Homo sapiens: one gene and its partner. The protein of the gene in region 2 purifies or fractionates together with the protein of the main gene of each other region. This does not show direct contact. Each region holds a gene or a part of one and is shown on either strand. Other genes may lie near its edges. The genes, in order: DPYSL5 and TFAP2D.

The links.
Region 1: the proteins of TFAP2D (region 2) and DPYSL5 purify together in Homo sapiens (affinity purification with mass spectrometry; one large-scale study listed by BioGRID and IntAct). This does not show direct contact.

What each region holds. Positions count from the first base shown.
Region 1 is NC_000002.12:26,854,391-26,858,214, reverse strand, and holds part of DPYSL5 (dihydropyrimidinase-related protein 5), read right to left. Parts: intron 1-3,824. UniProt on the Homo sapiens protein: Involved in the negative regulation of dendrite outgrowth.
Region 2 is NC_000006.12:50,723,305-50,727,128, reverse strand, and holds part of TFAP2D (transcription factor AP-2-delta), read right to left. Parts: intron 1-3,824.

The DNA of each region.
Region 1 (3,824 bases), on a different chromosome or scaffold from region 2:
GGGTGACAGAGAGAGACTCCGTCTCAAAAAAAAAAAAAAAAAAATGTTAAGTCTGATCTCATTCACTTGTTTGTATAAAGACAAATACCAAACATGGCAGACCACATGCTAAAAAAAATCTTTCTCAGGAACAATTTGGGCTGTGAATGGATCACATAAGGCAAAAACCAGCCAAGTTAGGAGTTCATGACTGCCTTGGCAGGCTCCTCTGGCTGCTCGTGTTTCATTACCACCATCCTATAATTATGCCTCAACCACTGTCCTTTATGCACACTGGCCATGCCCATCACTGCCATCTCTCCTGGGCCACATGACGATACTGGCCATGAACATGAGATGCGACAGGCTGAAGGTTAGTGCTCATATTGTTGTGCCTTATCTTTACTTTTTTCATTAGTTGCAGAGGTTCTTTCCATTATAATCCAACTGTAAAAATCACATCTATTTTAAGTTTTTCCAGAAACCTACAGAAAATAAGATACATGTCATAATTCTATTTCTAAATTTAAAAAAGGCAGTGTCCTGTCTGGCCATTATAGGAAATCTGAAATTATTATAAGAAATAAGAATTCTGGCCATTATTAGAAATCAATATCCTGTCTGGCCAAATAAGAAATCTGAACTCTGTGATTCCAAGCTGACACTTTTGTGGGATTTTTTTTCTTTTTTTTTTTTGAGACAGAATCTTGTTCTGTCGCCCAGGCTGGAGGGCAGTGGAGCAATCTCGGCTCACTGCAAACTCCACCTCCCGGGTTCAAGCGATTCTCCTGCCTCAGCTTCCCAAGTAGCTGGAACTACTGGTGTGCACCACCACGCCCAGCTAAGTTTTGTGTTTTTTAGTAGAGACGGGGTTTCGCTATATGTTGGCCAGGCTGGTCTCGAACTCCTGACCTCAGGTGATCTGTCCACCTTGTGCCCGAAAAGTGCTGGGATTACAGGCGTGAGCCACCACGCCTGGCTGAGACTTTTTTTAAGCCACAGAAATCACACAATTCAAAATTGCTATTTGACCCAATACAAGAAATATAAATTAGTTAACAATAAAAAGCACTTGTTAATCTTGCCCAAGGCTGTCAGGACATCTCTGGAATGATATCTGGACCAATGTTGCATTTATAATATGATTTTCATCTTTTCCTCAAGAAACATGAGTTAAGAAAACTGCAGTAGCAAGACTAAGGTAGACGTACACCGCTTAGTTTAAAAGTGTTCATTTCAGCCAATCAATTGGTTATTTGTGGACAATTCTTGAAAACTAGTATAATATATATTATATATACATATATAATATTTATTACATATATTATATATGTATATATAATATATATAATTTTTTTAACTGATAGATTACTGTGGAGTCAGAGATATAGCTTAAAGTTCTACTTTTTGCTGAAGAATAAGAGTTGGAAGTCAACCTCTGATCCAGCCATAATATTGTGCCAGTCTTTAGGATTTTGGTTTAAACAGCTGCATTGTATACTTCAGAGGATTTTTTTTTTAATTTCTCCATTAATCTTAGCATTTGGCACAATTTACTAAAACAGAACATGTGTGTATCCCTGACCCAGTAATTTCACTCCTAGGTATATATATACCCAACAGAAACACCTACTAGAATGTTCACAGCAGCACTGTCCATGAAAGCCCCAAACCGGAAACTATCCAAATACCATTAGCAACATAACTGACACATTTGGTACATACATACAATGGGATGCTATATAGCAATGAAAAAAATAAGCAAATTAGATACAACAGTAAGAGAAATCTCGCAAATATAACCTTGAGCACAAGAAGCCCCTGGTGAGAGAATATCCACTACATGATTCCATTTGTAAAAATTCAAAAATAGGCAAAGCTGATTGATCTGTGTATAAGCAGTCAGGATATGGAGGAAGAATACTAAGTAACTAGAGACTCTCCTTGAGTACTGATAATTCTGTTTCTTTCTTTTTTTCCCTTTTTTAAATAATAAGATTTTGAATCAGGCAGGCTTCTGAGCCATAGTAGGCTCAGAGACTCCAATTTTCTGTTTCTTAATTTGGTGCAGATTACATGGGTATGTCTCATCAAGCTATACACTTATGGTTTGTACACTTCTCAGTTTATCTGTTATACTTTACTAGTTTTTTTTAAAATGCACCCTCAGCCACTGTACCCCCCAAAAGTGACTGTTTCATGTATGTGTATTGCCACTTGACAATACGGCAAACTTAAAACAATTTAAGTAACTTCATTAAGGTTGAAAGTGTTTCACGTATGCTGGAAACAAGAGCAAAAAGATATTAAATGAAAAAATTGGGGGTTGTTTTTGAATTTTATAACAGAACAAACATATCAATCTACAAGGTCAGAAATCCGAAGTAAAAAATTAGAAAGGAGGCGGCTTCTGTATCAATAGTGGATCTTGCTCTGCAGAAGGACAAAGGGAGGGACAGGACCAGACAAAAGAAGGGAGAATAAAGACCCAAGGCGTGAGAATTTCGAGTCAGCCCATGGCGGATTTGAAATCAACAAAGGGGCAGCTTAGAAATGGACACTGGAGTGACACAAAGATGGTGTGATTGAGTACCGGGCACTACTAACATGTGGGAGACACACATTCACAGGGAGTCCAGGCAGCAACAGACCTCAACCCCTTTGCCAAACCAATGAAAGTGGACAGATGTTAGGTAGTAGGGAGTGACACGTGCACAATTCAGAATGCAGAAGTTCTCCTTTCTTTCCAAAAGAATCTAGTCATTCACAAAAACTCAATCTTACTTGGGCCAGATGATTTTTTTTTTGAGATGGAGTCTGGCTCTGTCACCCAGGCTGGAGTGCAGTGCCGCGATCTGGGCTCACTGCAGCCTCTGCCTCCTGGGTTCAAGCGATTCTTCTACCTCAGCCTCCTGAGTAGCTGGGACTACAGGCACCTGCCACCACGCCCAGCTAAATTTTTGTATTTTTAGTAGAGACGGGGTTTCACCATATTGACCAGGCTGGTCTCGAACTCCTGACTTTATGACCCACCCGCCTCAGGCTCCCAAAGTGCTGGGATTTCAGGCATGAGCCACCGCGCCCAGCATGGGCCAGATGATTTCTAATTTAAAAGGGAGGCCAGGCGCAGTGGCTCACGCCTGTGATCCCAGCACTTTGGGAAGCTGAGGCGGGCGGATCACCTGAGGCCAAGAGTTCCAGACCAGCCTGGCCAACATGGTGAAACCCCGTCTCTACTAAAAATACAAAAATTAGCTGGGTGTGGTGGTGCATGCCTGTAATTCCAGCTACTCGGGAAGCTGAGGCAGGAGAATTGCTTGAACCGGGAGGCAGAGGTTGCAGTGAGCAGAGATCGCACCACTGAACTCCAGCATGGGCGACAGAGTAAGACTCCATCTCAAAAAGAAAGGAAAAGAAAAAGAAAAAGAAAAAGAAAAAAAATTTAAATGGGGAGCCAGAGGTCTCAGTAGCTGGAAAATCCTGTAAAATATCACCTAAAACCATTCAGTCATTCTTTCAATATTATCTGTTGAATGGTTACTCTGAGCAATATTCTGGGCTAGAAGCCACCTGGACGAGAAAAGAGGTCCAAATTCTATTTTAAACAAGGTAAGGTGCAGCATTTTGTAATGGGATAGCCTATTGCTAAATTATTTAGTTAACTGTGAATCTCACACCCAACTCATAAGGTTCTCAGCTTGAGGTACTGTTTAAAGGCATGGATCCTTTTATGGTTAGGGTTTCTTTCTTTTTTTGTTGTTGTGGTTTTTTGTTTTTTTGAAACAGTCTTACTCTGTCACCCAGGCTACAGTGCAATGGTGTGATCTTGGCTCACTGCAACCTCC
Region 2 (3,824 bases):
GAAGAGTAATCAGTGGGAATGTCAGGGTAGCCAACCATCTTCAGGCTAGAAGTTAGGTCCTGTGCACTCTGCCAAAACCTCCATGACAGTGTCTGAAAACCTGTTCGCAGTTAGAAATCTGAGAGTTCAAAATCTCAATCGTCAAATTAAAATCCATTTCTTGACATCAAACTTGTAGCCAATACAATGGCAAACCATGTAAACACCTGCTTTAGGAGCTAAAAACAAATTCTCCTGTACTTCCCCCTCTTCATATTCTCACCGAGTTTTAAGCCAAAATACAACAATAAAAATGTTCCCCCAGATTCCTGGACCTAAGACTACCATTTCACTTTTGTTATCGGTTTCACTCTGTACTTAGAGATGCAAAATGCATTTCAAAAAAAAATCTTAAATGACTTCTTAAAATTTTAGATGAACAGGAAAGCAAGGTAGGTATTAATGAATCTGTGGTGTAGAGTCATACTGTGAGAATTTTGATCCTGATTATTTTAGGAATTAGATAAGTCTACCCCAAATATATTAAACAAAGAGAAATCAATGTCTTTATGCAAAATTCACATAGCCCTCTTCTAAAAATGGATCTCTACTCACAGTCACTATAAATCATAAGCAAATTGATATTCTGACATAAACTTTCCTCTCTTGCATACTAGCCAGTATACAAATGAGGACACAAGGAATCTCACACAGTTGCCAGTTAGCTTCAAGTTTATGATAAGTGAGAGAACAGAGCGTTTGAGTATATGTATGAATTATTTTCCTGGATGCTAAGGGTAGGGAATACCACAATTTTAGAACTTTCTTATCTTTACTAATCTTCAGTGGATTAGAAACCTAATTTAGGGAGATGTAGATGATTATCATTTTTAAAAGAAGTTGTTAGATCAGGCTCTCCCCAACTGGAAGACTTTTGGCAAAGTGAACCTTATGTGTTGAAAGCCAGCTGCTCCCAGGGAAGCCACTGAGTCTGCTATCTACCCACGTGCTAACTCCCTGGGCCCAGAGTCTCCCTCTCCTACATCTAGGTTGGGCTTCTGGCTTATGCTCAAGTAGACATTTATTAGGTAAGTTACACAAGCTGCATATTAAGAGTATGCTTTATGCACACACAAATTGCCTGAAGGATTTATTTTGTATTCAGGATTAGCCATCAACTCTAGAGTCTTTTATTTTTTATGTCACAGCATCTTTAAAGGGAATTTCTGTTGCTTTGATACCTGGCATTGCTGCAACCTTGGGGAACTCTCTAGTCCTGGCTAAAGATTTGGCAACTTGTAGAGTTTACAGCAACTTGGGGAACCTGATATCTTTCTTCTTGGTGATTTATTCTTTAGAGAGGTGGAAAAAAGTAGTAGGTCAATATCACCAGGGTTTTGCCTTTAGATTGAAGGTGCTGAGGGAGTGATACTTCTTTAAGATAATCCAGACTACAGATGGTAATGATGAGATCTCAAAGAAGAATGTTATGAAACGTTGGCCCACACCAAGCCATTTACAGTAGTCATCCCCAGTGTTACTACTTGAACTTCCTCATGGTGCTTGTGTTGCATGTCAGCTCATATTGAAATTATGTGATAATCATTCTAGATTCAGCATCACAATTAAGAATGTCTTTGATTCTATAGCCAGTGTATTCATGCAGAACTTCTCCAGAGTTCATCCCTTTTCCATATACAGTTCACAGAAGCAATACTTTCACAAAGTTCACTATTTTTAAATTTGGAATTTGGAGATAGGGCTCTCTATTTTCAGTGATGCTGCAAATTCTGATGGGTAGCTATGGTAACAGTGGTAAGAAATCAGAAACTATCTGCTCAAGGTCCTTTGCCTAGGACATGGCTTTCATTAAAAGGGATAACTTTGCCATAGCTACAGGAAGAAGTCAGCCAGAGACTTCTGGCTCAGGTGTGACAAAACTAGCACAAAATACATGGATGCAGATCCTCCAGCTGCCATATCTTGTTAGATCTTATTCGGTTTGAAGAAGCATGGGGTGGCTTTACCTTGGCTGCCTTGGCATAACAGGGGACATCTGGCCAGTGTCTGCAGACAGTGTGGGGCAGTGGAAAGAGTACCGGGCTACAAGTAAGAATTTGACCAACTATCGACTCACGCAACTTTGGGCGAATGACTCTGGGTCTAGTCTGTCCATCTAAACAATGAAGATGCTCACACTTGCTCTACTTATCTCCCCACCTTGTAAGGAGGTGCAATGGGAAATGGATGCACGCACGCTCGGCAACCTGATTATAGGCCACCCAACCCCGCCACTTTTTTTTAAAAAAACAACTACCCCGTTGCAGGGTGTGAACTGCGGGGTAGGACAAGACAGGTCCCCCCGCCGACACACACACACACACACCCCGCCACCGTCTGTGCTGCAACTGGATGGGAAAGACAAGCGCCGGAGCCTGGGTGAGCTTTTTCTCTTCTCATCCCAGGCTACTGGGGCAGAGGAAACAGCGGCGGCTGTCTCCAAGGAGCCGCGGGTCCCTGGAGCCTCTAAATCTGCCTCTGAGCCATACTCACGGCCTCCGCGCCTCCCCCGTCTCAGAACGCACCCAGCTGTGGCGAGAGGTCCCGCGCGCTCTCCAGGTGCGATCAATACTTCCTAGCGGGCTTCCGGGCGCTGGGCCGGTGCGCGCATCCTCTCCAAAGCCACAGCGCCGCCCCACTCGTCGTAGCGTCGGTGTTGACATAATTAGACCAAATCTTGAGAGCAAAATAAATGATCTGTTCGCCTTACAGCCAAACAGATGTTTACAATTCAAATGAAAGAAATACAAACGGCAGGGATTTTTCTTCTCCCCTTCTTCATCTCCAGTGATCGCTCTTTTTTTTCTGACACATTAAAAATGTGTAAGCGATTACAAGAGTTTCCTGTCCCTGTTTGTTCTGCGGTTGCATTTCTGCGAGGTGCGCCTGTGAGTTGGGTGGGGAGAATTATTCTCTGCTGCTTCCTCTCTAGCCTCTCACCCTTCCTAACCCTCCTCCCCCATGTTACCCCTCCCCCCATGTTACCTCTCCCCCCACGGCAGCAGATATTAATTGTAATCAAACAGCAAAGGATGCGGACTTAATTGGAATCAAGTAGGCCTTTGATGATGTGTAAGGAGCGAATTGTTTGGGGGGAGGGTATAACATTACAGGTATAGCTGGATTACCAGGGCCGAATGAGCTTCTCCTTTTGTAGATTCCAGGCAGAACAAAAGAGAGGTGTGCGTGAAGAGACTCGCTGGTTTAATGTGGCGGTAGGTGTGTAATGGTGTATATTAGGGTGTGTGTATGGCGGGGGTTGGGGGGAGATTAATCCCCATTCCCCAGTGCAAAAAGTGTTTTGGTTTCTGCTGATTTTCAAAGCAGTTAAAGAAATTAGAGAAAAGGCTGTAGGCTGTGGGAAAGCTACCTCTTTCCCTCTACAACCCCCAACGCCCACAAAGATTTCCAACAAATCATGCTTCTGGATGCTTTGGTACAAGAGTTTTAGATTTCATATAAAGGAGATTGAATTTCAAACCTGCAGAATCTGCACTGGGGACTAAGGAGGCAGGCGAGGCTTGAGGTGTATCTCTGGCTCTATCTTCACCCATAATGGATGAACCATAGAGATGAGTTTTGGCTAGCGAGAGTAGTGATTCCAGGTAATCCATCTGGAATCCGAAGAGTACTGACAAAGGAAGAAGAGCAAGGCTTCCCACGCTCCTCCAATTGTACTCCTTCAGGAGCTGCTGAAAGAATCCACGGCTTTCTCCATCCCGGATTCCAAGGCTCTGGGCCTTCCTGAAACCCAGAGAAGCAGAGGAAATCGCTTCCTCCTGCCA